3 separate regions of the Homo sapiens genome follow, and regions 2 and 3 are each linked to region 1. Evidence: fine-mapped expression QTL. A gene starts in region 1. Each other region holds a variant in brackets. All regions are shown on one strand. Distances are from middle to middle.

Evidence for each region. PIP is the estimated chance that this variant, and not a neighbour inherited with it, causes the effect. A credible set is the group of variants that fine-mapping cannot tell apart.
Region 2: its variant is the best candidate, but not a certain one, in a credible set for the expression of RMI1 in thyroid (GTEx, PIP 0.75).
Region 3: its variant is the best candidate, but not a certain one, in a credible set for the expression of RMI1 in spleen (GTEx, PIP 0.85).

The regions. Positions count from the first base shown.
Region 1 is chr9:83,976,603-83,986,897 of GRCh38, forward strand. RMI1 (RecQ mediated genome instability 1) reads left to right here and starts at 4,203. Exons shown (of 3, transcript NM_001358291.2): 1 at 4,203-4,289. It overlaps HNRNPK (heterogeneous nuclear ribonucleoprotein K), which reads right to left and starts at 3,613. Exons shown (of 17, transcript NM_031263.4): 1 at 3,551-3,613; 2 at 1,771-1,850; 3 at 1,593-1,677; 4 at 1,087-1,184; 5 at 393-449. The coding sequence starts at 1,650. RefSeq lists enhancers at 2,887-3,046, 3,867-3,916, 3,876-4,383, 3,957-4,016, 4,147-4,216 and 2 more and silencers at 3,587-3,726, 4,537-4,616.
Region 2 is chr9:84,250,596-84,260,890 of GRCh38, forward strand. No RefSeq gene overlaps it. Among named protein-coding and RNA genes, the nearest start is that of SLC28A3-AS1, 22 kb to the right of the region's middle. The variant A/G (reference allele first, on the strand shown) is at 4,615.
Region 3 is chr9:83,994,601-84,004,895 of GRCh38, forward strand. RMI1 (RecQ mediated genome instability 1) reads left to right here. Exons shown (of 3, transcript NM_001358291.2): 2 at 5,109-5,197; 3 at 6,351-9,474. The coding sequence starts at 6,387. The coding sequence ends at 8,264. Among named protein-coding and RNA genes, the nearest start is that of RMI1, 19 kb to the left of the region's middle. The variant C/G (reference allele first, on the strand shown) is at 6,230.

The DNA.
Region 1 (10,295 bases):
ACAAAAAAATTTTTCTGGATTTAACCAGCCACCTGCAATGGTTTTCAGTAATACTGTAATTGATTCACACACAGGAAATGGTGCAATCAAGGATTTTTACACTTTGTCGCTATTTCTAATTAAGATGTTATCTTGCTTGATGAAGTGAATAATTTGGTGGACTCTTATTAAAATGTGAAGAGGTTTGAAAGAAACCACCCCCCCACCCTGCTCAATCTGGGCTTTTGTTAAAACAGGAATGGATAACTTCGAAATCAATTCTGTAATAATAAATTATTACAAATGTCTTTGTAGCTAAACTATGAAATGATTTCTAGGATGTAAATCTTTAAATTTCTATAGACATATAAACTGAAGCTGCTCGTGTAGTAGTTTAAACTCTTAATACTTACGTCTGTACGGAGAGCCTTAATATTCTTGCCTCCTTTTCCAATCACTGCCCCAGCATTCTGGAGAAGATACAAAGACAAAAAATTATTTTGCCTTTCCCTAAAATTAATAGCTACCTACGCTCTTAGATTTTGCTAAAAAATCCTCTAACCTGTTTGTTATAAGAATAAAAATCTATTTGGGGTTGTAAAAACGACCAGGCCAAAACCAAACCAAAAATCAAAATATAATTCTAAGTGCTGTGAGGACTAGATAGTTTGGAGTACTCAATGTCAGAAATAACACCAAGTATAAAATAAAACTAAGCACAGATTTTATAGCACCCTTTGGTAAAATAAGTCAATTAATTTAGTATTAGTAGGTACCTTCATATTGTGACCTGTGATCAAACAATAAACTGCCAACCAAGCAGTTTCCTAAGGAGTCCACACATAATTAAGATTTAATCTATTAACACTTTAAGAATCACACTCTCCTCCTAGTTTGACCTGTAGTGGCGGTTCACTACAGCAAGGGCTTTAATCTTAACTGTTAGTGGAATAAGAAAACCACCAGAGCCTTCAAGTCTGTTTAGAAAGAACCAAATGTTTTATATTCTTCAATCTGTAAAACTTTGACTTTCTAGAAAGCCAAACCAGACCTTAATTTCTACCTGAGTATGAACCACCTTCAAATTTTCAAGAATAAAATTTATACCTTGCTCTGAAGCAGAATGCGTAATTCAACCATCTCATCAGTGTTTCTAGATCTTTTAAATGCTTGTTCCTCTTCCATATCTTCTGCAGGGCGTTTACCTAAAAATTAACAGTTCACATTTCAAAGAAAGCAGCGAAGTCTCCAAAGTAACTCCATTCTGTTTCAAGAGACTTGTTGCTAATCTTAGGCATGTTTTGAAAAGACCAAAGGCATTGCTACAGACTTGAACGTTATGCTTCCATCTAGTAAAATGCACCAAACACAAAATACTGCCACAAAATACTTCAAAGGATTTGAAATCCCAAAATGCAAGAAAAATTCTTTATATGCAAATCAGTTACTTCTACTTCATAAATAAAAGCTAAGATGTAACTACTGATAATCGCAGAATTACATAAACAGTAATACCAAAAATTCACCACACACTCCTAAGGCAATAATTAACAGAAAAAGGCAATTTATTAACAGGATAAAAAAATACTGTTAAAACTAAAATTTCTTCTCACCAAATTCACCATTGGTTTCAGTGTTAGGGAAGGTTTCTTCTGGCTGTTCAGTTTCCATATTCTTTTATTAAACGGGCACACCAATCTGTGGAAAAATAAAGCAGCTAGTACATTTGGCTTATTGGAAAGCAAGCTGTAAAAAAAAAAAAAAAAAAAAGACATTGCTTCTAGAACGTACCAGTTATTATATATCCTTGCAGAGCAGAACTGAAGCGTTCTGGGTCGGACCAACAACTGACACCCCAGTGCTGCAGTAGCCTATAAGAACCAACACAAATCAGTTTTGCTTTTGTTTATTCTTATTACTGAATATTTGTTTCCGATCACAGTGAATACTGATTTGAACCCAAAAAACCAGCTGTTTCTAAAACTTGATTCTTCATTTTAGGGTTTCACAATTCAAATGACTGCCTAAAAAATACAAAATTCAAGGGAGCCTGGTTTCATTTTTTGCTAAGTTAGAACAATAACTTTTAGCCACTGGATTAAGTCCCACCACAGCAATGAATTGTTTTATACGGCACATTCCCAAAACCCTGAAAAGATAAATGTCATCCACAAAGCATACATTTATGAAAAGTTACAATGCATCTTATTCACTGGGAAAACTAATTTTATATTAAAACTTCCAATTGCTTTCCTATTTCTTTCGACTCATGCTTGAAGCGATCTTATGTGACATCTCTAAAGTTTACAAATACAACGGCAATTGCGAACACATCCAACAACCAGAACAATCTACCGGAGGGATAAATCCAAAAATCTAATATAGGACCAGACCCAAACTACCACAATACCAGTCTATTATTAATCAGCGAAACAAATGGAGCCCTTGAAAACTAACAGTCACTAGCGGATTATTTTAAATTAGGCTTAAGGGAGTACAACACAACAATCATGCCTGTAACACGAAAACTAAAGTGTCTACGTGCCAAAACGGTCGATAGGACTACAAACAGCCTTTTTAAGCTTCCCTCTTGTCGGGACTAGGAGTTGACAAGCGGCCTCTACTAGAAGGTTGGCTAGACAGCAAAGAGCCAACAAGCGAGGCACATTTATGCCTCCCATTCTCCCATACCGTTGGTCGACTTATTGCTCTCCTAACGACAACTGAAACGACATCCTTCCGGCCCAGCACGCAATTTCTGAGGTGTGGTGGGAGAAGAGTTGGATAAGAAAGTTTAAGCAAAAACAGCAGGGCTTATCTGTAAGAATAACGTTGCCGCTTGCCGTTCACCCTTCGGGTCCTGCAGTCACTAGTCCCCAGGCCTCAAAAATCCGCTAAGTATGTGCTCCACTGGCCGAGCGCCAACGCGCCCTCCCCTCCCCGCCTCCCGGCACCGAGATCAAAAACAGCCGGGTAACAGGACGGGAAAAAGCGAAAGTCGACAGCAGAAGCACCGCACCTCTCCTCACCCGGATCCGACAGGAAATGGCGGCCCGCGTAATGGCGACTACGTGCTACTAGGCGGAGCCGAGCGCCGACCCCCTCCCCCACCCACCACGCGGTCCCGAGGTCTCATCCCCCGCATCCTCCCCCCACTGCCCGAGACAAAGCCATCGAGGCAGCCCTGACCGTTCCATCCCCGCCGCTCCAGCTCCGACCCCGGGCCGGGAGACCCAAGGTGAGGCGGGGCTCACACAAAGAGAGCGGCGGCGCGACCTTCTCCCCGCACCGGCCTCCTTTCCTCCACGAGGTCCCTAGTTCCCAGTGCCACATAGCTCCAGCTCATCCTAGAGGCACATGCCTCACGAATCCCCAAGTCTCTAGGACCACAACGCGGACTGCGGATACACGCTCAGGGAAATGGCGGAGGTGGGGGAGGGGACACCGGGCAACGTTCCCACTCGGAGAAGCGGCCAAACACCAAAGCGGCTCCCAGGACGCCTCCCTCAAGCGGAAAAACTGGGCTCCGACCCTCACCTCCACGAGCCGCTCCCCCAACCCGGCTCCTCACCGCGCGAGACTGCCGTCCCTCCGCTGCCGCGCCGCCTCAGCCGGTCGGAGCTAGACAGAAAACGAGCGCAGGCTCCCCTCCCCCGCCTTCTCGCGTCCTCCCCGCCGTCGCGCCCTATTGGCTGCCAGGGCTTCAGCGATGGTGCGAGGGCGAAGCGATTGGCCCGAGGCCACGTCAATCAAGGCGACGGAGGAGGCGACAACCCCGCCTCCCGCCAGCGCCTCCCTTCGGGCTGGGAGGCCACTAAGGGCTCGAGAAAACCCGGGCTTGGGAAAAGTAAACGCAGCCTTTCAGGGAGCCCCAACCCTTACCCGAATCAGCAATACCCAAGCTCCAATAACTCCAATTACCTATAGGCCGCGAACAAGTGGGACACAGGCAAGACGTCGAGGTCGGTGCAGCAGAGAAACAGAGGATAATGGCGTCTGCAGTGCTGTCGCCTGGAGCGCCCTCCTCCTTTCTCGTTCGCGCACTCACTAGCTGGGGGGAGGGGCGGCTAGGGGGCGAACCTCTCGCGAGATCTAACAACTGCCTAGTTCACGCGCACAGGGAGGGGGCGGGGAAGGGGCGTTTTCCAGCCCCGAAGGAGTCCTTTGGGGTTGGAGGAGGGGCGCGAGCGCGCGGCAAATCGGGCGGGAAGAGGTAAAAAAGGAACTGGGAGCGCGCCGCGGCGGTTCCTGTCCTTACAGTTGCGCTGCCCAGGGACCGATGTTGCGCGAGGAAAATGCGGGACGCCCAGGTCGGTGCTCGGCCCAGACTTATGCCCGTGTTTTCACAGCCCACACTCGTGCCCGAAGCCCCTTACCCCGCCCCGGGCTGTGGTCTGTGGGCTGTGGGACGAGCTGCGGCGCGGTAAGTGCGGGCCGTCTGCGTCCGCTGGGCCGGGCCCACGCTTCGGAAACCCGTTGTTTGTAATGGTCCGGGGCGCCCGTCAGTCAAGGCCGGGCCCGGGGGCGCAGCTGGCGGTTCTCGGCCTGCCTTGCGCCGGGGCGGGAGCCGGGGAAACGCGGGGCGAGCCTGGGAGTACTGGAGAACTTCTCGCCGAGAGGGCACAGGCGGTTTCACAGGGCTCTCGGTTCTGAGACTTTCCTCTTGGGTAATGGGACCTGAGATGGAAGTATTTTGTAGTGTCGTCGCTGTAGTTTATTCCGATAAAATTTTTAGGCAATATGTATTGCCCTTGTCTCCTAAAATGAATGCGTATCGCTGAATACGTTGCAGACCTCCACGTTCCATTCAAAGCGCCTGCCTTGTGGCAGTGATGAAAACAGACAAAAACCCTTGCCCTCAAACGTGCTCCTGTTCTAGCGGGTTCAGCGCACACTTGCATTGTATTCGGTTCCTTACTTTTAAGGCTCCTGTGCCAAGCTTTCATGACTTCCTTTGTTAAGGCACATAAGGTCACTTTCAATCGGTGACAGCCCTGGGAAATCTCCAGCCCTGGTAGTACCCGCTTTCCACATCCTTACTCGTCAACCTTCCAGCCTCCGCCCACAATCCCAAACTCATTTTGAAGCATAAAGGTGTCATAATCTGCACATAAAGCGAAATCCACCATTGGCCGAATACATGCATATATTTTAGTGTTGATGAATTTGTGCTGATTCATTCCTGTTATAATGTTTCCTTCTTGGGTAATTTGCAAAACATATATACCAGCATTCTTTTAAATGGCCATGATTGCATCCACCCAGCATCTTTTACTTGACTGATTAGAGGAAAACTCTTGTTAGGGCGCACTGAGGATTTCATGACAAACACCAGTATTTACATTCTGGGAGGATACGTTAACACATGCTGTTAGAACATAATGTCCGGGATTGTGGAATTTATAAAAGTTCTCTTTAAGTGATAATATAATTTTTTAAATGGTCCCCACCATGAAGAGTGTATAGTCTTGTTGGGTAGGTAAAACTTAACTCGCATTTCAGTTCTAAAACACAAAGTTCAGAATTTTATTAAATATTCAAAACTGATGAGTTTATGTAGGGGCTTAGGATACTTGGATTATAGAGATTTAATCCGCCAGTTAGTATTTGCAACATTTAATTGAGTTTGTCATTTAAAACCTGAGACATGTCACTGACACTAATATGCACAAATAGCGGTACGGTAATGATGATGCTGTGCTTTCTTTCAAATTAGGATTTATGTTGCAGTCATCATTTTCTTGATAAGGAATGATGAGTGGGAATCACAAGTAAGCAGCCCTATATAAGAACCTCTTCCGGCCGGGCACGGTGGCTCACGCCTGTAATCCCAGCACTTTGGGAGGCCGAGGCGGGCGGACCACAAGGTCAGGAGATCGAGACCATCCTGGCTAACATTGTGAAACCCCGTCTCTACTAAAAAGACAAAAAAAAAAATTAGCCGGGTGTGGTTGCAGGAGCCTGTAGTCCCAGCTACTCAGGAGGCCGAGGCAGGAGAATGGCGTGAACCCGGAAGGCTGATCTTGCAGTGAGCCGAGATCGCGCCACTGCACTCCAGCCTGGGCGACAGAGCGAGACCCTGTCTCAAAAACAAAAACAAAAACAAAAAAAAAAACCTCTTCCTCCCAGTTTCATTGTCCAGACTGGACCCCGACTGGTGTAAATTATTCATCCCCTCTAGATGCCATTGTGGGATGGTTGCTATTTTTCCCCCCATTTGATTTCTTCTTTACGTCTTTTTAATTTTTAGGTTTGCTCTTTAAATAACAGGAAAGTCTTTTTTCTCCATCCTTTTATTCTCTGTTTGAAATTAAGACTTTTCAACCCAATAATTTTATACCTGTGTTCATTCAAGAACTTAACAATACATTCATTGACTCCAGTCTTGTGTAATTGGTACAATGGTGTAATGGTGTAGTGATCACTTTGGACTCAGTGAATTTAGACCCAATATTACTTAGATGGGGGATTTACTTTAGATGGGCTAATATAATTGAGAATGTACACTATCCAGCTGCATTATTGTTTAAAATAGTATTTATAACTACTATTTCCTGAGTTCCCCACTGTGTGCTAAACGTTGTGCTGGCAGTTTAATACTTTTTAGAGTTCTTTGAGCAAGTTGTTAGTTATCTTTGTTTTGTGAACGAATGAACTAGCACTAAGAGAAGCTAAGGAACATATCCAAGGTCACATAGCAAAATGGGGTTCCAGATTCTCTTTCTGTCTTTTCCTTACTTTAGGTTATGGAGGATCCATAAAAATCTCCTCTGATTACTTCTTCTAATTTCAGTCATATACGGTATAAATTTTTCCTCCCTAATTTTCGGAGTATCTTCTCAAAAATTCCAGGATTACCTTGAACTCATCCTCAATGAATTAAAATGTAGACTTACCTTTATTGTTTAGATGAAGATAATGGAACTGTGGAGTAGATTTAAATATTCGTTAGTGCTTTTAAGTCTCAGCTATTGTCAGAATGACACACGTAAGGTCCAAAAGGATGACACTCCTGCCTCGCTTTTTATTAAAAAAAAATTGGAATATATGAGGCTGACTGAAAATTAATCTGTAAATCAAATATGCCTAGACCTTCGTGGTAGGTGATAAAATTTTCCCACTTTATTTTCTTTTGTTCAGTTCCTGGCAGTACAGATCTAGAATGCAGATTAGTGTGGTCAGCCAAGTTTATCATTCATACAATGCTAATCAGCTTTCTTAAAAATGTTTTTTCCTGATTATAAAATTAATGGGGATTAAGCTGTATGTAATTTTATATGTGTTCTTTTTCCCAACAAAATGTGAATGTATTTCTTTGTCATTAAATAATTCTTAAAAATGGTTTCTTTAAAGATTTCATAGCTTTTCATTTCATGGTGGTAGTGCTATGTATTTAACTTTTTTTCCCATTTTGAACATTTTGTTTTTTTCAAAATATAAAAACTCAGTGGTAAACTCTCTGCCACATAAATCTTTGTCTTTATTTATTTTGTTACTTATTGATGCATAAAAGATGTACATAGTTTTGGGGTATATGTGATAATTTAATATATTCACTTAATTTGTAAAGATCAAATCACAGTACCGGGGATATTATCTCCTTAAATATATGGCTTTTCTTTGTCCTTATTTATGATTATGTCCTTAATTCTGGAAAGTAAAAGAAGTGGATAATATGGTATGAACATACCTTTTTTTTTTTTTTGAGACTGAGTTTCGTTCTTGTTGCCTATGCTGGAGTGCAGTGGCGCAATCTCGGCTCACTGCAACCTCTGCTTCCTGGGTTCAAACGATTCTCCTGCCTCAGCCTCCCGAGTAGCTGGGATTACAGGCATGTGCTACCAAGCTCGGCTAATTTTTTTGTATTTTTAGTAGAGATGGGGTTTCTCCATGTTGGTCAGGCTGGTCTGGATCTCCTGACCTCAGGTGATCCACCCGCCTTGGCCTACCAAAGTGCTGGGATTACCAGTTTTGAACATCTTTTTTTCTTTTCTTTTGAGACAAAGTTTCGTTCTTGTTGCCCAGGCTGTAGTGCAATGGCACAATCTCGGCTCACTGCAACCTCTGCCTCCTTGGTTCAAACGATTCTTCTGTCTCAGCCTCCCTAGTAGCTGGGATTACAGGCATGCGCCACCAGGCTCAGCTAATTTTTTTGTATTTTTAGTAGAGACGGGCTTCTCCATGTTGGTCAGGCTGGTCTTGAACTCCTGACCTCAGGTGATCCACCTGCCTCAGCCTCCCAAAGTGCTGGAATTACAGCTGTGAGCCACCGCACCCAGCCCGAACATATCTTACTGTATAATTTAAAAGACAGTTTTCCAAATTTATTATTATTTTCTTGGACAGTGGAGTTCTTTAGGATCAGGAGCTGTTCTTTGCACATGGGAATTTGTGCTGCCCTTGCTAACCTCTGCCTCTGAGCTGCTTCTACCTGCTTGTGACTATGGTTACCCAATTTCCTAAGCAAAGAAGGGATGAAAACCTTAGGAATTATCTGAAGGACTAGATGCCATTAATATAATTTACCAAATTATTAAAGGTCTCAATTATTAATATCCAGTCTAAACTTTATAATATAGATCTTACATAATATTTTTCCATTTGATTAAACATTTTAATAAGCTTCTCTTTCTAATCTGTAGGAAAAATAACCTATTACACATCATCTTTTTATTATAATTAAGACATGCAGTTGTAGGAATTATATCTGTATCCTAGATCAATCCTACTTTCTACTTTGTTGTTAAGTGATGAAATCTGTGTAACAGATGTATGTTAGCAGTTATTTTATTTCCCCTAAAGTTCTTGACTTTTTGGTAAAATATTTGAGAATAGTTGTATTGGAATGCTTGTACAGTGTTAAGTATCTCTTATCACATTTGCTTGTGTTTTACAGGTGTCTTGGTTATCTTTTGGGTGTTTAGTCAATGGAATTTTTTTCTTTGCCCAGTTATGATAACATTACTGTAAATTCATAGTATGTCAGCTTCAGAAGTTGAGAGTGGTTCTTAGAGTTATTAATTAGGACTGACACATTTAATGGAACAGTTTAGTTGTTGGGGTTCACTGAGCAGTGTTTTTCAGAATTCATCCCAACTCTTGGCTGAAAGGAGTTTTGCCACTTGCGGTGTTCAGTAGCACATACGGCCGGGCGCGGTGGCTCACGCCTGTAATCCCAGCACTTTGGGAGGCCGAGGCGGGTGGATCACGAGGTCAGGAGATCAAGACCATCCTGGCTAACACGGGGAAACCCCGTCTCTACTAAAAATACAAAAAAATTAGCCGGGCATGGTGGCAGGAGCCTGTAGTCCCAGCTACTTGGGAGGCTGAGGCAGGAGAATGGCAGGAACCCGGCAGGCTGAGTTTGCAGTGAGGCGAGATTGCACCACCGCACTCCAGCCTGGGCGACAGAGCAAGACTCCAAAAAAAACCCACCAAAACAATAGCATATACCAGGAAGAGCAAGTTTGGAATTAAAAAAAAATTAAAAAATAAACTGATACATAAGCCTTAGAATATCAGTTTGTAATATTCAAAAAATGTAAAAATTATTTTATGTGCTATGTTAGTAGGGTTATAGCAAAAGGAAAAGTAGTACTTAACCGCAGCACTATGTCGAAGCTATCACAAAGATAAATATAGTAGGTGTAGGTGATATTTTTAAGTTTTTCTTTCATTTGATTTTGTAAATGAAACAATTTAGAATGCATTAGATGGGCTTGTTATTTACGTGAGATCTGAGAATTCTGTTCATTATAGTAGCAGCAAACCACTCTTATAGAATGGCCGTTTATATGTGGATTTTATACATAAGTGGGTTTTATAGATGAATTGAGGGACTGGTTTTACTTCCTCTTTCCACTTAAGTTGACAGAAAAAGGTAAAAGAATGGAGATTAGCAGAATTTATGTTCTAGTTCTGGGTCTGCTGTTGGGTATGATATGTATGCCTTAATCTTCATGCCTCAGTTTCATCATTGTCAAAAATAGATGAGAATACTCTTTCTATCAAAAAATTACTGTTTTGAGGTTTAGATAACATTGTAGATGTAGAAGTACATTTTTTATTGATATCTTTAAAAAAATTTTAAGTCTTACAAAATAGGTTTTAATTTATTTTCAGCAAAGTCTTCACTTCTCTGTTTATACATCTGTACCTGCTGGGAAATATAGGATTAATATCTCTGAAATTCATTCTTGTTTATTTTCTGTCCAGCCTTGACCTTTTCAGTTCATAACCAATCAGTCTTCTTTTCTTACTGATTCATTTCTTTTGAAGTTTCAAAGTCAACTGAAAGTACACTTTGTCCTCATTTC
Region 2 (10,295 bases), 270 kb after region 1:
ATCTAACATATTGTCATTTCAACATTTGATCATATAAAAATTATTAACAAGATATTTTACATTATTTCATGCTAAGACTTAAAGCAGATCTCAGATCTCAACTCAGGCTAGCCAACATGTCAGGCACTTAGTGGCCACATGTGACTAGTGGCTACCATACTGAACAGCACAGTTCTAGAGCCTTTTCCCTGGATTCTGAAATCCGAGGTCCCAGCTCAAGGTATCCCTCCAGAGCATCACTCTAGAGTAGCCCTGATTCCATCCAGTAGCAGTTTGTCTCTGTGTGAGTCTGTGTGTGTATATATGCCCACATATGTATGTGTGTATGTGTGTGGGGTTATTTCCATGAGCACTTATGCTATGCCTGTGGGAGGAAGCCTTGGCCGACATCTCAGATACCCCAGGAGACAAGGGACAGTTTTTGCAGGTGCTAGTTGTCTCCTCAGCAAAAACCAGCTTGCAAATTGGTCTCCTGCTAAAGATCCCTTATCACTGTGCCTGGATCTCTCAGCTTAAGCCACGAGCTATTTCCTTGACCTGTGGCTGCCTCTGGGTCTCCAAGGAGTTGGTTTGTAGGGAGACAATATTACCTTTTGATCTGCCATTGCTTGTACCTGCATTGGAGTCACCCCAGGATGGCAGCACCACTGTGGGGACAGTGTGTGAATGAGACTGAAAGAGGAATGACAAAACCATTGTGTTCCACCGAGGCAGAGCAAGAAACACCTTTGTTGTATCTTACTTGGGTCAGATTTTCAGGGGTGTTGCATGTCCTGTGGCTCTGCATTAGGTTGTGGGGAGGACGCACAGAGCAGCTGCAACTCTGGCAGACAGAGCTTGTTGTGAAGAGGACTGAGTCAAGGATATGTCTGTGATGAGACTCACATTTCATCCAAGGTGACAAGCATTCAGATCGCTCCTCCTGTCCTCTCCTAAAGCAAGATCCACAATGATCAGGTCACACAAGGAATGGGCCAGCATGGCTGCAGGGTAGGCAGCTAAGACATCTGTTTCATTTGTTGGCCTATTCTCTCTGTAGGGAGGAAACCCAGAGGAGAGTAGTGGGCACTGGATTCCTAACTCCTCATATAATGGCTGCTGAGAATATTAGATGTGCAAAAAGGTCACAGGAGACATATTGCACTTGCTAGAGGTTTTGCTGCTGTCACAAAGCAAGCAGAAACAAACCCTCCTGCCCTCCCCCTTCCCTGAAAAAGTATATGCTATTTGCCTCTGATTAGATTTCTTGGATAAATGACCCTTCACCTGGGCAAATAATCCCACTGTCCCCCTGCTTTTCTTGGGTCCCTGCTTCTGACTGTAATTCATTTATCTCTGGCACATGTTGTTTTGTATTTCTGATAAGACTCGGGTGAAAAATAGGGTGGCAGCTGAATTTATTGACGCAATTTGCTCATGTAATCTATGCTGTTGGTGATTCTGAAATGCATGCAAAGGCATTAGCCTCCTAATTATGGATTTTCATGTGATTGTTTGAAATGCAGATGGTCAGTCAGCTCCTGAGCTGGGGACCTCGATCTAGGGGTGGTGGTGGCGAAGTGCTGGCGATAGAACTATTACGACTGCAGAAAGAATGAGATGTTTAGTATTTATGGTCTGTTTTTTTCCTGGGTAGATATCGGGGAAGTTGTAAAACCCTTAAAGTCTACAAAGAGTCATACATAGTGCTGTAATACACTCTGTATCCATGGGGTATTAGTTCCAGGACCTCTGAGGATACAAAAATCCTTAGAAGTTCAAGTCTCTGATATAAAATGGCATAGTATTTGCATATAATCTATGCACATATTTTCATAAGCTTCAGATCATCTCTAGATTACTTATAATACCTAATACGATGTAAATCCTATATAAATAGTTGTTAGACTGTATTGTTTATTATTTGTAATAATTTTTGTTGTTGTATTGCTGTTTTTATTTTTATTTTTCTTGGATATTTTTGATCCAAGGCTGGCTGAATCTACAAATAAAGAACCTGGGCTACGTTGGGCCAACTGTAAATAAAACTTACTCATTAAACAGGGTATGGAAAATTTGACCAGGGAAGGTCTAGTCTTAATACCACTGTGCCCTTATTTTCAGCCAGCCATCTCCCCTAAGTTTTGGCTGTGTGTGTGTATGTGTGTGTTGGAGCATGTGTGGAGAAGTAGTAGTGTTCTCGAGAGGAGAAAAGTGTGAGAGCATGGAGCACTCTCACCTTGCATTTTGTTCTCATCCTTTCTTCTCAAGGAGCACTTATAGGCTTTGTGATGGTTAAACCCACAGGTAAAAGCGCTAGCCCTTTTCTAACATTAATGGGTTACTACAAGGCAAGGTGTGAGCTTACATTGGACATCATATTTTGAGAAATAATGAATGATGCTCTGGCTGGACTGTAGGGTTGAGGGATTCTTACAGAGAAGAGCTCAGTAGATTTTTTTCCCTCCGTCTAGGAAGAATGCCCACAGCTGCCACATTGCTACCTGCTTAGTGCAGCTTGTGGCTACTTGCAACTCGGCTCACAGTCACCCGTTTTCCGGGTATACCTAAAGCTCTTACTCGTGACCCTACTCTGTGACTTGGCATTCAAAGCCCTCCAGGATTTGGCTACAACTCTCTTTTATAAGCTCCTTTGCTTCTCTGCCCCTGCCTGCACCCTGTGCTCCAAGCAAGTTAAATGCCTCCCTCTTCCCTACACAGCCTCATCCTCCCCCACGTTGTGGCTTTGCTCGCGCCTGCTATGTTTGACAGTGACTCTGCTTTTCTACCTCCATGTGCCCAAATACTTTGTACTTTCAGGTTTAATGCATACCTCATCTCTCCATAAAACCATGCCTTATCCCTTCTATCTCAATGTTACCTCTTTCTCCTCTGAACTCTTATAATATTTTATCTGTCTCTCTCAGGACCACCTCTTACTCCTTTGGTTAGTTATTGATGTTCACGTCTCATTTCTCCCATTAGATTGTAAGTTTCTTGAGGGCAGGGCCCATATGAAATTTATCTGTCCCTCAAGTGGCATCCTGCACATAGTGGGTACCTAGCCACCATTTGTTGACTAAATGAATGAAAACAGCATTAATCAAAAGCTTTGGAGATTGACATTCTTGGAGAAATGTTGGTCAAAGTGCATTCCAAGGACCATTTACTTGGGGTGGGGACAGAAGCTTGTTGAAAATGCAGACTCATGGATCCTACTAAGATTTACCAGATCAGAGTCTGTGGAAGGTGAGGCCTGGAAATTTGTGCTTTAAATAAGATTCCTGAAAAGTCCGATGTTCAAAAGCCCATAGATTTGCAAAAAAATATTCAGTCCAGTTGGAGTCAGGCCCTTTAAGCTAAGCACATAGAAAGTGAGAACTAGGGGCTAGGGAAATGTTAGTCCACAGATACCAGAGAGGGCATTTGTATCAGCTTTAAAGCTGGAAAAGGGAAGTTGACATGAATATTAGTTATGATTTGTAGGAAGTCTGTCATCTAATGCAGAGAAGCCTTTGAAACATGCATTTCAGGGTAAACAGTTTATTATGTGTGTTGTCCATCCAACACTCTGTGTTGCCAAGGCTTGGTTCCAGATTCGGAAGAGACTCCTATTGGAAAATTCAAAGGCCATTGGTTTATTGAACAGAACTGGGAGCTCGCTTATTTATTTATTTATTTATTTATTATTATTTTTTTTTTTTGGAGACAGGGTCTCTCTCTGTCACCCAGGCTGGAGTGCAGTGGTGTGATCGTAGCTTACTGCAGCCTTGAATTTCTGGTCTCAAGCGATTCTCCTGCCTTAGCCTCCTGAGTAATTAGGACTACAGGCACATACTACCACACCTGGCTAATTAAAAAAAGTTTTTTTTTTAGTGATGGGATCTCACTATGTTGCCCAAGCTGGTCTCAAATTCCTGGTGTCAAGCTATCTTCCTGCCACAGCCTCTCAAAGCCCTGGGATTACAGTTGTGAGCCCTGTTCCCTGCCAGGAGTTCACTTATTAATTTAAAAAAATTTTAAGTAAGTAAATAAGAAAAATCAGCCAGGCTATAGAAGTCAGAGTGAAAAAAATTCAGCTTGGTCGCAAAAGAAAAAACACCATACAGCATCCAAGTGAATATTTTTAATGCTTATAAAATTTTAATAGGAAGTGTGAGATGGATTTTTGCAGGCTTTAGTTACTACAGCCAATTGGTAACTAAGGAAATACTCTATTCTTCCCTACTGATTTTTCCAGGTGATTTAAACCAAGGATAAAAGCCCTCAAGAATTTGTTTTTAAAGTAATATCTCTAGCTGTCTAGGGAGAAAGGAAATAAAATGAAAGTCACTCCTCTCTTTACATAAAAAACCTTTCCCTGAAGAAAAGTAGTGTGGTGGTCAGTGGTGTTAAGAAAAGGTAAAAATGGACAAGTATTTTTAAAATGACGGTATAACTAGGGTACTGCTAATATTTAGAAAGACAGACAATTATAACAGTTGAGCTGCAGAGAAAATGGCTCAATGTTCTATTTTCAGCTTTTCAACAGGTCAGAGTCATCTAATGAGGGCCGTGGCAGGGTGGCAGGCACACTTCCAGCCGAACTGGTTGTACAAGCTTCTTGTACTAAAAGCAGTCTAGAAGAACCTTCCT[A/G]GCATCGAAGCAGCAGGGAGAAGAGCCTGTAGGACCCATTTTTCTAAACACTGTGCTCTTCTTTTTCCTTTTAATTTTCAACTTGGTGTCCATTAGGAGATTTACCTGGCTGCATCATTCAGACGGTAGTTATTGAGTTTCCGCTTAGCCAAGGGCTGTGTTATGTATTTTCTCTGCCTCTCATGTCCTGAGCCAATTTGCCTTATCCAAGCACATCTCTGTTATTATTCTGGAAATTGGGCCATCCTGACAGTCTCAGACAGAGCCACCTCAGCTCTGATTTATTCTGCGAATGTCTTGCTTAAAGGCACAGAGGCAAACCTCTTCAGAGGTATATTTCTCCTGAGTATAAATGCAGTTGTATGTATAGGATTGACAAATTCAGGTTTTTTCCTGCTGTCTGAAATACGGTGCCCCTCTTACCTCAAAAAAGCAAACAGCACAACCTATACTGTGCATGGCTAACAAGACCACCAAATCACAGTGACAGTGGGTGCCTGATGGGATGTGTACCTGAGAGAGCCCCATCTGGGGTCCCCTATCTAGCACTGAACTCAGCAACCATAGCTCTATTAAACAACTTCACCTGCATGACGTCCTTATCACAGAATTGTTGTTCCCCAGGACCGAGACAGAGATTAAAGTAGGTAGGTGGGGAGATGGGATCAAGGTCCCTGCTGGTGTTTCGTTGCTGTGACAATATCCAACCCTATGGGATTGTAGCTCAAGTAGATACTTAGATCAGGCTCCTCTGAGGAAGATTACAGGCAGTTCTTATTTCTGGAGAACTTATATGTGTGAGCCTGGCATTATCACCTTGACTAATGAGTGTTAAAAGAGAAATCAGAATCCCTGAGGACCTCCCGAGAAGAGCTTTTCAGGAAAAAAAAAATGACACAACACCCGGTGCTGACTTTCCCAGTTGCTCAGTCTCCCTCGAGTCCTCGGGGCTTGTGATGTACACCAAGCTTCCGTAATGTCTATCAATTACTTTGGAAGGTAGAGGGCACCGTGAAAACTGTAACAGTGAGTCTTCCTTCCAGCTGTGAACACTAAGCAAATTCGTACCTTCACTCTTCCCCACTTACTCCTCCCTGGCTTTGATCTCAAACTGGTCCTGTCTGTTCTTTACTAGTTACTTATGGTATGGTTTTTGGATCAGGATACTGGCTACAAAGGTTTAAAGTCTGGAAAATAATTTGCCAAAGTAACACCCCAAAGGATACTTCCTGGATAGATAGATTAGACTATCATCTCCCTACCCAGTGGGCAATGGGAGCGTTACTAATGGTGAGCAACTGAGTGTGAAGTGTCTGCTGATGTGGGACAGTGTAAAGCATTCCACAGCTTTCCGGATGGATTCTAGCCTAGAAATGTTGGAATCTAATCCCTTGGATCTGATTTCCAGTTCACAGGGAATATAGAGATGGAAGAACAAGCTTAATAACTGAGGACCTGGGTGTGGTAGCTCCAGCCTGTGGTCCCAGCTACTTAGGAGGCTGGGGTGGGAAGATCATTTGAGTTTGGGAGGTGGAGGTTGCAGTGAGCCGAGACTGCACCACTGCACTCCAGCCTGGGTGACAGAGCAAGAAACAAAACAAACCAAACAGAAAACTTGTCTCAAAACAAAACAAAACAAACAACACCCCCCACCCCCAAAAAAACTGAACATCTAAGGAAGCAACAAGGCAAATAATTCCAGAGGCTGGGTCTTTAACTAGACAACTGGCCTAGACTCTTCAATCAGTGATGAGCAGTAAGAGACGAGTGTTCTAGATTTAAAGAGATTTTAAAAACATTACAACCAGATACAGCGTGTGGTCCTGGATTGGATGTGGTTTAGCTAAACTCCTAAAATAACAGATGTTTTGGGGACAATGGAGAAAATTGGAAAGGCATTAAATAAGAAGAAAATTGATTGACATGGAAAGATGACTGATTTTATATATGTATATATATATATACTTATAAGAGTATACCTGTATATGTATATATAAAATACATATATATGTACAGAGAGAAAGTGTGGGAGGATTTGCACATTGGGGTTAACTGTGGTAATCTTGGGGGAATAAGAATATGATGGTTTGATTTTCCTTTTTTTCTCATCAACACTTTCTAATTTTTTCTTTGTTTTTTGAGACAGAGTCTCGCTCTGTCGCCTAGGCTGGAGTGCAGTGGTGCAATCATGTCTTACTGTAGCCTCAACTTCCCGGGCTCAAGCAATCCTCCTGAGTAGCTGGGACTACAGATGTGTGCCACCATGTTTGGCTAATTTTTAAATTTTTTGTAGAGATGGGATCTCACTATATTGCCCAGGCTGATCTCAAACTCCTGGGCTTAAGTGATTCTCCCCCCTTCACCTCCCAAAGTGCTGGGATTGTAAGCATGAGCCACTGGGCCCAGTTAACATTTTCTAATTTTCTGATATTGAAAAGAGATTGCTTTCGTGATCACGAAAGATTCATTAAAAAAATATTTTTTAAAAGAAAAAAACCCAAAAAACAGGAAATACCTTTCCAGGCAGCAATAATGAAAAAGAGCCTTGAGGCGAGGTCAGCCCAGCTGCTAACAAAAGACGTGTGAACACCTCCTGCCAGGCCTAGGACTTACTAGGAAGACCCCAGCAGAGACCATAATTCCATAGCGTTGTAGCCCCACTTTTTTTCATTTTGAGGCGCAGGTGAACAATTTAAGATTTGTCACAATGTAATTGAATGTGCAGAGTGACTTCCCACTGATAGTGATTGCTGAAAAAGAGTAGGGGAGGGGATTGGGAGGGCGGTGCAGGTTTTCTGCTCAGGCCGATGCTGAGTCCTGGGTGGGAAGCACGGAGCAGGCCTCTTCTACGCGGGGTCTTGATAGCTCTGCTGATGACCGGGTAAACCCCATGGGGCCAGATTTTATCAGTGATGTATTTTCTTCACTGAGAAGAATATCATGTAAGAGGCAAATAAACGTCACACAGTTTTTGCAGACCCACCCAAACATAAAATGACATTTGTATGCTGAAATAATAACCAGAAATTTCTATGCTCTAACCAATGAGTCCTTTCTCCCAGGCAGATTAGAGACACTGGAGGATGAATCTGAATATTCAAATGAATGTCCACCCTGGTGTGTAGCAAGGGGGGAAGGGGCAGAACTGGCCAGGGGCTTCTCTGATCACGTTTTGATGATAAATGCAGGATAACGAAGAAATGAAAAGCAAAGAGAAGAACTAGAGGGGGAAAGAAGGCTCACTGCACAGTAACTTCAACCGTGATCGGCCGGGTCACATCTGCCCTGCGGGAGGGAGGTGAAAAGGCGGAGGGTACACTCTGTTCCTTAGTGAAATCGCTTAGGCACAAATCAGATCAGCTGGCCTGTCTGGCTGAGACCCAGGACCTAGAGGGACCAAATTGGCAGACCTGCTTTCCAATATGTAGGTAATCACATTATCATCATTGCTTGGGGTAAGACGGATGGTTTTTACAGAATAGCCCTGATTGTGAAAGGCTGTTTGTGGGTGTGTTTGGCAGAATATTTTATACCCTCAAGATGTGCAGTTTAAATTAGATGGTGAGAAAAACCTAAATGCATAAAAAATAGGACTATTAAGAGAGAAAACTGACGTTTGGCTCTTGTGAGGCTGTTTAACATCACATGCTCTAGGATCTCAATATCGATGTTCAGTATTGTCCATCTCAGCAGCAGGGTGATGTTAGATAACACGTTTGAACTGCTTTTTACCACTCTACTAAGTTTTTTTTTTTTTTTTTTTTTTTTTTGAGACAGTTTCACTCTTGTTGCCCAGGTTGGAGTGCAGTGGGGTGATCTTGGCTCACTGCAACCTCCGCCTCCCAGATTCAAGCGATTCTCCTGCCTCAGCCTCCCGAGTAGCTGGGATTACAGGCGCCTGCCACCATGCCTGGCTAATTTTTTGTATTGTTAGTAGAGATGGGGTTTCACCATGGTGGCCAGGCTGGTCTCGAACTCCTGACCTTGTGATCCACTTGCCTTGGCCTCCCAAAGTGCTGGGATTACAGGCATGAGCCACCGCACCTGGCCTCTATTAAGATATAAAGCTGTTAAATGGATTACCTTGAAAGACATGATTTTTGTACATTAAATATGGTCAAATAGCAGTAATTTCATATGATTTGATCTAATAATTGACCTTTCCTTTAGAAGAGCTTAGATGTGGGTTGAGAGACAGAAGAGTAGCTTATCAACAGACATAAAATTATTAAGAACTAGAATTAAGAGGCCTTTCTTTGAAGTCAGTAACACAAAGATTTGTTCATGCTCCTTAAGGTTTTTCCTTGACTGACTCCATGTGGGTGAATCTTTTTCTCTAGATGAAGCACACCGTCCAATGTTTAAGCCACAAGGGAAAATGAACCCAGTTACTATTTAATACATGCAACTCAGATTTATCCCAAAATATGATGATCTACCTTGACCCGCCACCTTTTTCCAAGAGTTGACACTGTAAGTTTTCTAGAAAAAACTCCACTCTCGCATGACCAAGATTTGTGTGTGTGATCAACATTTAGAAGAACGTGCTAAAGAAGACACTGAAGACAATTCCCAAACAAGAGTTAATATCTGAGCTGCGGCAGCATCCTTGCCACAAAAACGCAGCTCCCCAAGCAACACAGGGCTCACTTAGATGTGTAAGCTCTGGTTGTGTTTCTTTTAAAATCAGTCGCATTACTTTATAGTCACATCTTGTGAGAGAGGGCTCAGGGTCTCCAGCATCCCTGGAGAGGCATCTTCTTCCTTCTGCTTGAATTTTCCTCAATCTTCTATCCCGTTTGAATGGCTGTGACCTGTTAGGGATTTTATTTGATTTTTAGGGCTTTACTATTGTATTCATCTTGATGCTCCTCAGATAGTGTTTGTCCTAATCATTGTTTCTAGTACAAAGCCAAGTTGAACTGCTGGAATTATGGAGCAAAATACTGAACTGATATTTTCTTCCTTGTTATTGGCTTGCTGTTCTACAGGCTAAAGGAAAGTCATGACTTTCCAGGCACAGTTAAATAAATGGTCATAGTTAGTCCAAACTATCTTGAGAGATGACCAAAGTTTGGGTCTCAGTTCTGACCTAACTTGCTGTGTCATATTTGGCAAATTTATTAACCTCTGGCAACACCAGTTTCTTTCTTAAGAAAATGAAAGATTGAAATAGATAATCTCCCAGTTATTGTCTGATTCTAAAATAATACAAGTCTATATAAAACCTTGTATAAAGTTAGGCTGTTATTTAAATTATTGTATCATCCTTTAGACATTCACTTTTATGGAGAGGAAAAGAGAGAAGGTAGCTCAGAAATAGGTTGGTAGGAAAATTCAGGTTTTAAAAATGGTTGGTGGCATTTGAGTTGTATAGAAATAATTTAGATTTGAGTATTTTTTGAACATATAGTCTTTTTTTTTTTTTTTAAAGACAGGGTCTTACTGTGTCACCCAGGCTGGAGAGCAGTGGTGAGATCATGGCTCACTGCAGCCTAAACCTCCTAGGCTCAAGTGATCTTCCTGCACCAGCCTCCGGAGTCACTAGGACTATAGGCACATGCCACCATGCCCAGCTATTTTTTTTATTTTTTGTAGAGACGAGGTCTCACTGTGTTGCCCAGGCTGGTCTCAAACTCCTGGGCTCAAGTGATCCTCCTGTCTTGGCCTCCCAAAGTGCT
Region 3 (10,295 bases), 18 kb after region 1:
AGATACTTCCTGGGATCAAGTGATCCTCCCACCTCAGCCTCCCAAGTAGCTGGGACCACCAGAAGGTGACATCACACCTGGCTGATTTTTGTATGTTTTGTAGAGATGGGGTTTTGTCATGTTGCCCAAGCTGGTCTTGAACTCCTGAGCTCAAGCGTTCTGCCCATCTCGGCCTCCCAAGTGTTGTGATTACAGACATGAACCACCACGTCTAGCTCCCACATTTTTGTTATCTTATATTTTACATCCAGCTTGTTAGGTCTTCTGATACTTTTCTTTATCCTTAATGTTTTGTATTTTGCCATGTTACTGTGTATAAGTGTAGATTAAAAAAATACTGATTAGCAGTAGAGAGTTTTTTCAACCTAGAAAATAATATCTTGGAAAAATTTCAACCATTATTTATTTATTTATTTTGAGATGAAGTCTCACTGTATCACCCAGGCTGGAGTGCAGTGGCGAGATCTCGGCTCACCACAACCTCCGCCTCCCAGATTCAAGCCATTCTCCTGCCTAAGCCTCCCGAGTAGCTGGGATTACAGGTGCGTGCAACCATGCCCAGCTGATTTTTGTATTTCGAGTAGAGATGGGGTTTCACCATTGTTGGCCAGGGTGGTCTTGAACTCCTGACCTCATGATCCACCTGCCTTGGCCTCCCAAAATGCTGGCATTACAGGCATGAGCCACTGCCCCGGCCTCAACCATTACTTTTTAAAAAACATTTCCTTCACCTCTTCTATTTTTTCTTTCTGAAATTGCAATTATTTCACTGTTGGAACTATGTTCCCTACTTCTTAGTTCTTTTTTCCTCATTGTGTAATATCTTTTTTTTTTTTTTTTAATTGAGACAAGAGTCTCACTCTGTTGCGCAGGCTAGAGTGCAATAGCACGATCTCAGATCACTGCAACCTCCGCCTCCCGGGTTCAAGCAATTCTTCTGTCTCAGCCTCCCAAGTAGCTGGGACTACAGGCACATGCCACCACGCCCGGCTAATTTTTGTATTTTTGGTAGAGACGGGGTTTCACCATATTGGTCAGGCTGTTCTTGAACTCCTGACCTCAGGTGATCCACCCACCTCGGCCTCCCAGAGTGCTGGGATTACAGGCGTGAGCCACTGCGCCCAGCAGGTAATATCTTAATCTTTCTTTATACCGTGTTCTAGGTAATTTCTAATGCATAAGTTATCTCCTCATTTGTTGTTAGCTGGATGTTTATCCCATCTATTGATTTTAATTTTAGAGACCATTTTCTGTTTCCAAGATTTGCAGTAGATTCTTTTTATAAATGCCCGTGATCATTTAATTATCTTCTATTCTTCTTTTAGGATGTTAGTCCCACTTAAGTATATTTAGTATGCTCAAAGAGATAAAAAAAAAATTAAGATGTTTCATTTAAAAAACTGTCTTCAGGTGTAAATTCTATTTGCTCTGTCTGCTGATTGGTAGTAATTTTCCTAAAGTGTATTATAATTTTGGCTTGCAGGCTCACGTTGGATTGTTTTTTCCTGTGTGTGTTTTACCCTTTTTGTGTGGCTTTAGAGTTTACTCCACCTGTCCCTCTGGCTGACATAGCTCTAGGTCAGCTGTTTCATTAGGAATTTGGGTTTTTACTTAGTGAATAGCCCAGTTCTGGACCACACTACGTGTGTTATATGTGTTATGCAGGCCCAGTGTCTATTCTCAGGGTAACTCTGTTCCCGCCACATGTAGGTGTTGGGTGGAACTTTTTTTGGCCCAGTTCCAGCAAGGAGTCTGTTTCTGGTCTTCTGTCCCATCCATGGCATGCTGGATTTCTGGAGCTTTGTATCTTTAGCTACACTGTTTTTAGCTAAGTGCCCTTTTCCTGGGGGCTGCACGGCTTTAGTGCCCACTTAACCACTCTTAAGTTTGCCATCTGTTCCTGACCCACGAAGATCTTACTCTTGTTATTGAGTGTAGCTAAATATTTAAATTTTTGTCTAGTTTCTTGTATATCCATCTAGAGGTACTTTATGTTTATTAAGTAATAATGTGCTTATTTTCCTTTGTTTTGTATACAAAAGTTAGCATACTATATATCCTATTAGATTAGTTCGTTCTTGTTCTGCTGTAAAGAAATACCTGAGACTGGGTAATTTATAAAGAAAAGAGGTTTAAATTGGCTTATGGTTCTGCAGGCTGTACAGGAGCAGGCTGGGGAGGCCTCAGGAAACTTAAAATCATGGTGAAAGTGAAGGCAAAGCAGGTGCATCTTATGTGGCCAGAGCAGGGGGAGGGCAGAGAGGGAGAAGGTGCCACACACTTTTTTTTTTTAATCAGGCATTTATAAACAAAGCATACATTAATTACATAAAAATAGTTTTTGAATAACAGAGTAAACATCATATTGTCATTAGCAACAACATAGGACATGGGGCGGGATGCAGGGCTCTGGGTGGTTTTAAAGATAGAGGTGGATTCCCCCCCCCTTTTTTTTTTGGCAGGGCTCTGGGTGGTTTTAAAGGTAGAGGTAAGTCCAACACCCCCCCCTTTTTTTTTTTTTTTTTTTTGAGATAGGGTTTCGCTCTTGTTGCCCAGGCTGGAGTGCAATGGCGCAACCTCAGCTCACCACAACCTCTGCCTCCCAAGTTCAGGCAATTCTCCTGCCTCAGCCTCCTGAGTAGCTGGGATTACAGGCATGCGCCACCACACCCAGCTAATTTTGTATTTTTAGTAGAGATGGGGTTTCTCCATGTTGGTCAGGCTGGTCTCGAACTCTCGACCTCAGGTGATCCTTCCACCTTGGCCTCCCAAAGTGCTGGGATTACAGGTACGAGCTACTGTGCCTGGCCCTTTTTTTCCCTTAATTGAAAAAAAAAAAGAAAGAAATTATTTGTTACTCCTGACTTAAAGCAAGAACAAATGCCTCCCTGGACCCTGGTGGGCTGTGTAACAGGGCGGGTCAGAGAGGAGTGAGGAGGGCTCCGCACCCACTGGGAGGAGGGTGTCACATGGAAAACTGGCATAGGGGCTTCTTCTCCTCGTCTGTGCCACACACATTTTTAAACAACCAGATCTCAGGAGCACTTACTATCATGAGAGCAGCACTGAGGGGGAAATCCATCACCATGATTCAGTCACCTCCTACCAGGTCTTACCTCCAACACTGGGGATTTGGGTGGGGCCACAGACCCAAACCATATCACCTATACTTTGCTTTTCTTAATAAGATAGGGAGTATTTTTTTTTTTTTCTGAGAGACAGGGTCTTGCTCTGTCGCCCAGGTGGAGTACAGTGGTGCAGTCATAGCTCATGGTAGCTTCGACCTCTGGGCTCAAGCAGTCCTCCCACCTCAGTCTCCCTAGTAGCTGGGACTACGGGCATGCACCACCATGCTCAGGCTAATTAAAAAAAAAAATTTAAAGATGGGATCTTGCTTTGTTGCCCAGGCTGGTCTTGAACTCCTGGGCTCAAGTGATCCTCCCACCTTGGCCTCCCAGAATGCTGGGTTTACAGGCGTGAGCTACCATGCCCAGCCAAGATAGGAAGTATTTCCATTTGGTAAATCAGAGAGCTGGCGTGGAGATTTGGTTTCTTTGTTAAAGAGACCTGCTCATTTGACCTGCATAGTTTATCTTCATCACAACAAGTAAAGACTTTTTGTACTTTTGAATTTTTACATTGTTTTTTACATATAGTTTAAAAAATGTTTATACTCTCATTTTCTTTAATATAAAGATTAATCAGTTCTATAATTATGACCTTAACTTCCCCATGTCCTTTAAATTCTAATCATCCATTAAATTAAATTAATAATGTACCCACTGTTTATAGGTTCCTGAGAACTATATGCTTCTATGTCTTCTTTTATGGGACATTTAAAAATTTTTAATGGTAGCAAGCACTTACATACATTTACTATGTGCTAGGACAGAAGTACAGAACAAAAGAGGAGAAATTGTTTAGAGGCAGTGATAAGGAATCCATGTCACTGAGAAATATGAAAAGATGTTCAACTGCTAGCATTAGAATCAATAATAAACTGAAGTTTTAGTTCCTTCCATTTCTCAGACATGTGCTGCATTTCTTTCAGCTGTTTTTGGGGATGCAATGTAAAATAGTTTTGTTATAGCAGTAGCTTAAGGTGAGCTGTATTAGCATTTTCAGGGTTTAAACCCCTAAAATCTCAGGTAGGTATATATTATTTTCTTGAGAACCTACAAAAAAGTCTCATTTCAGTAATTTCAGAGCAGTGTAGAACTTATCCAATGTAGGAATTGGTCATTCAGTCTAAAATAATGGCTGGGCGCGATTGCTCACACCTGTAATCCCAGGACTTTGGGAGGCTGAGGTGGGCAGATCACTTGAGGTCAGGAATTTGAGACCAGCCTGGCCAACATGGCGAAACCCTGTCTCTACTAAAAATACAAAAAGTAGCCAGGTGTGGTGGCACACACCTGTAGTCCCAGCTACTGGGGATGCTGAGGCAGGAGAATCGATTGAACCTGGGAGGCAGAGGTTGCAGTGAGCCGAGATTGCGCCACTGCAGTCCACCCTGGGCGACAGAGCAAGACTCTGTCTCAAAAAAGTAAAATAAAATAGAATAAAATAGAATAGAATAAAATAAAATAAAAAAAAATAAAATAACAATAAGTATAGTTTTTGAGTGGCTGCTTTTTGCCAGTTGCTGTAGTAGGCACTGTAAGTCTAATAATAGTATACATTTACTGAGTTCTCGCTGTGTGCCAGGTGCTGCTTTTTTCATATTAATCTAATCTTCATAACAAGCCTGAGGAAAATCCTGTTATTCTTGTTTTACAAATCAGATAAGGATAAGTAGGATATCATGAAGTTGAGTAACTTGTTTAGAGTCAGAGGTTATAAGTAAGAGTTTATGATATAGTCTAGCACCAGAGATGTACTCTTAACATCAAATACTATACCTCCTATCTTCTTTAATTTTCACAGTAAGCCTATGAGGTAAGTATATAGAAAAGGAAACAGGCTTAGAGAGAATGTGTAACTTTCTCATGGTCTCTTGTTTCTGATCCCCATGAACCATACCATCAAACTCTTGCACTTAAGAAAATAGTCCTGTCTTTCTACAACTTCATCTTATAACTCTTACTGCTTTTTGTCTTATCTCCCAGGGCCATTTCTGAGCAGTGGAGGTTTCAAGTAATCCACTAACAACCAGTTCCAAATTCTGTCATCAAATCCTGTGCTGCTGTTCCTCGTGGTAAGTTTTCTTATGGACATAGTAAAACTTTAATATATTCTACTTCATAAATATCTTCATCTGTAGAAGGAACAAAGTATACTTTTGTGAACACATGATTGATTGGGCTTTACTGTTTTGCTACTGCTTTATCATACTGAGAAAATCAGAAGTTAAATATTTATATATTTGCCTGGCCAGACTTTTGAAAATATTTAGCCCAACAAATAAGATGCTTTACATCTATCAGCTCAGAGTCTGCTGTTATTTGTTATAATTTTATCTTTAGACCACATATTCAAGTACTAAATGGACAGACACAGTGGTATGTTTTAATAGAGTTAAATTAGAACTATTGCACATACATAAAGAACATTAGTGAACATTGTTTCTTAACTAAATTTTAAATGATTAGAATGTGATTATTAGATCAATTATAATATATTATACAGTAGTCTCCCTTTCTCCGTGGTTTTGCTTTCTGTGGTTTCAGTTATCTGCAGTCAACCAAGGTCTGAAAATATTTAGCAGAAAATTCCAGAAATAATTCATAAGTTTTAAATTTAGTGCTGTTCCGAATAGTGTGATGAAATCATACCCTGGACTTGGATCATCCCTTTGTCCAGCATATCTATGCTGTTTATGCTACCCACCCTTTAGTCACTTAGTAGCTGGTTGGTCATCGGATTTAAAAAAATAATATATATTAAGTTTGATAATATTTAGAGTTTCAGACATCCACTGGGGGTATTGGAGCATATTCCCCATAGATAAGGGAGGCTAATGTAACTACTGTTTACTGAATATCCTTTATAGGTCTGACATTATGCTTTACAAATATAATTCATGTGATCCTGTTAACAATCCTATAAGATAGATGGTAGTGTTGACATTTTATAGATGAAAAAACTGGTTACAGAAGTTGAGAATTTTATATTAGGTCACATATCTTGTAACTTGACAGAGCCAGCTTTCAAACCTAGGTATAGCTGTCTCAAACCTTTTGATTTTCTCATTTTACCATCTGATTATGTGTAGTGTTTCAATTTCGAC[C/G]ATGTAAGATGCTGAAGAGTGAAAAATCTAAAGGGTGTGCCTGTCTGTGCATTGTAGAGAATTACAGAAGCTGTATTCAAATATACTGAATTATCTAAATTTTTTTGTTTTTTGTTTTCAGGTAATAGATGCATATTATTTCTTTTATTTAAAAGAAATGAATGTGACTAGTATTGCATTAAGAGCTGAAACTTGGCTTTTAGCTGCATGGCATGTTAAAGTACCTCCGATGTGGCTGGAAGCTTGTATTAACTGGATTCAAGAAGAAAATAATAATGTTAACTTGAGTCAGGCCCAAATGAATAAACAAGTGTTTGAGCAGTGGCTCCTTACTGATCTGAGGGATTTGGAGCATCCTCTTTTACCCGATGGCATTTTAGAAATTCCAAAAGGAGAATTAAATGGATTTTATGCTCTGCAGATTAATTCCTTGGTTGATGTAAGTCAGCCTGCATACTCCCAGATACAGAAGTTGAGAGGAAAGAATACAACAAATGATCTAGTTACAGCTGAAGCACAAGTAACCCCAAAACCTTGGGAAGCAAAGCCTTCACGAATGTTGATGCTGCAGCTAACTGATGGAATCGTACAAATACAGGGAATGGAATATCAGCCTATTCCAATTCTTCATAGTGATCTTCCTCCAGGTACAAAAATTTTGATTTATGGAAATATATCTTTCCGTCTTGGTGTTCTCTTATTGAAACCAGAAAACGTGAAAGTGTTAGGAGGTGAAGTAGATGCTCTTTTAGAAGAATATGCCCAAGAAAAAGTACTTGCAAGATTAATAGGGGAACCTGATCTTGTAGTTTCAGTCATACCAAACAATTCTAACGAAAACATTCCCAGAGTTACAGATGTTCTAGATCCTGCATTAGGTCCTTCTGATGAAGAACTCTTGGCAAGTCTTGATGAAAATGATGAGCTTACAGCAAATAATGACACTTCCTCAGAACGATGTTTCACCACAGGTAGTTCCTCAAATACCATTCCCACAAGACAGTCAAGTTTTGAGCCAGAATTTGTTATTTCTCCAAGACCAAAAGAGGAACCATCAAACCTATCTATACATGTAATGGATGGAGAATTAGATGACTTTTCACTGGAGGAGGCCTTGCTTTTAGAAGAAACTGTCCAGAAAGAACAGATGGAAACTAAGGAATTGCAACCATTGACTTTTAACAGAAATGCCGATCGAAGTATAGAGAGATTTTCACATAATCCTAATACTACGAATAACTTTTCTTTGACTTGCAAAAATGGAAACAATAATTGGAGTGAAAAAAATGTATCTGAACAAATGACTAATGAAGACAAATCATTTGGTTGTCCATCTGTTAGAGACCAAAACAGGAGTATTTTTTCAGTTCATTGTAATGTACCCTTAGCCCATGATTTTACAAATAAAGAAAAGAACTTAGAGACAGATAATAAAATAAAACAAACCAGCAGTTCAGATAGCCATTCCTTAAATAATAAAATATTAAATAGAGAGGTGGTCAACTATGTACAGAAAAGGAATTCACAAATTTCTAATGAAAATGATTGTAATTTACAGAGTTGTTCTTTAAGATCATCAGAGAATAGCATTAATCTTTCTATTGCCATGGATTTGTATTCTCCACCCTTTGTCTATTTGTCTGTTCTAATGGCCAGCAAACCAAAGGAAGTTACAACAGTGAAAGTGAAAGCATTTATTGTAACCTTAACTGGAAATCTCTCAAGTTCTGGTGGTATTTGGAGTATAACTGCAAAGGTGTCTGATGGTACTGCATATCTAGATGTAGACTTTGTGGATGAAATACTTACTAGCTTGATAGGGTTCTCAGTACCAGAAATGAAACAGTCAAAAAAGGATCCTCTTCAATACCAAAAGTTCCTGGAAGGGTTGCAGAAATGTCAAAGAGATCTAATAGATTTGTGCTGTCTAATGACTATTTCATTTAATCCTTCCTTGTCTAAAGCAATGGTACTGGCATTACAAGATGTTAATATGGAACACCTTGAGAATCTAAAGAAGCGGTTAAATAAATAATTAAACTAAAATAGTATTAGGAACAATTAAAAACAACAAGGAAATATTTAGAATTTGTTCACAATTTTACTTATGATACTTTGTGTAAAAAGGAAAAATGAAATTTCATAGCTTATTTCAGTTTAATTTTAAAGTGTTTAATCATGTTTGTTATATGTGGAGCTTTTGAAAATAAGTTAATCTTTTTTTTTTTTTTTTTAATGTCAGGGTATTGCTCTGTTGCCCAGGCTAGAGTGCAGTGGCATGATCATAGGTTATTGCATCAACCTCTTGAGCTCAAGCGATCCTCCTGCCTTAGCCTCTTGAGTTGCTGGGACTATAGGCATGTACCACCATGCCCAGCTAATTTATAATTACTATTATTGTTTTGTAGGGACAGAGTTTTGCTATGTTGCCCAGATTGGTCTCAAACTCCTGGCCTCTCACTCCTGCCGTCATGGCCTCCAAAGTTTACTTTTTTTAAAAGTAACTGTTAGATGGAGGAATATGGTGACCCACTATTGTTGAGAAATTTGTTTTCCACTTGTCACGTCACATAAGATGATTGCTAAAATATTGTACTGGTGTTCGGTGGTGAGTCATATTTTTGAAAGTTAATAATTATAAATAGGTAATTTCCTTCTAATATGTTGGTACTGTCTATGGCCATACCACCCTGAACATGCCTGAGCTTGTCATAATATGTTGAGTACCCAAAAGATTTGTTTATATTGTTAATCTTAGGGAAAAAAAATTAAAATCCAGTAGATCAGAACATCAGGCTTTCAGATACAAATTGATTTACTGGTTTTTATTTTGCTGATTATAATATTTGGTATATTTAAGGTAATCTAGTTAACTAGATGCTATTTCATAGATTATATTGAATGATTTAAAACTTTATTTTCAAGGATAGTTTATTTTAAATGGCATATTGAAAACATCATTATTAAGATCCAGTAGGTAGGACATTTATTGGATTAAAATGAAGCATTTATCTATGTCTTTAGGTGTCATTGTTCCCTTTCTGAATTAGCTGTACATATAAGCCTTCCTTTGGTTTTAAGTACTGATTTTTTTTTAAAAAAAAGAGGGACTGTTTACCATTCTTCCACTGTGCTGTTATAAAGTTGTATTTGAAAGGTAATGTTGTTTTTATTAATCTTTTGTCTTAAAATAATTTAAAGTGCTTTGAATTTTAAAACATTAAACAAATCCTTAAATAACAAAATACATTGGTGTTTTATTTTATTGAAAATAATGTAACGAAATATCAGGAAGTAAGATAAATACATGTATGATGTATGATAATAGAAGTAGAAGAGAAAGATTTTAAAATATTTTCATTGTTGTATCAGGGTTCAAAGCACCAGGACACAGATATTGCTAATATATGCCCTAGTAATAATCTTGTCTATATACTTGCATAGCTTTTTAATAAGTGATCTGAATGGGATAGCTTTATCTTTCATTATCTTTTCATTAAATTTTCTCCTTCTATACTCTCATCTCTGTGAATGGGGCTTGAAAATTGGGATTAGAACTTCTTTTCATATTGTCATTAAAGACTGGCTATCGTACTTTTTATCAATCTATGCTACTATATTGGTTCTTGGTACATCCTGTTTCTAGTCTTCTCTGGCCTGGATTACTGCAGTGGTTTACTAATTGGTCTTTTATCTTATTTTGCCCTCAAACCGTACTCCATAATGTTAGCAGAGTGATCTTTCGAAAATAAGTTTCTTCTTGTTTTCTCTTCATTAACCTTTAATACCAACCTCCTCCCACCCCATTACTTATAGGGTGAAGTCCAAACTCCTCATTGAGTAAGTAAGGACTTTCGTGATCTGGCCCCTGACTTCTTTTTTAGCCTTATCTTGCCCCATTACTCTTTGCCTCTGAGTTTTAGGGGTACCAAGTTATTTGTAGTGCACTAAACATGTGGAAGAATATACCTCTTACTTTCATACTCATGCTTATAGTGCCTGATCCCCCTACCTTCCTAAATCATTTCCAATTCAGTTTAAGCTTTAGGTGCCTGTTACAGTGTTT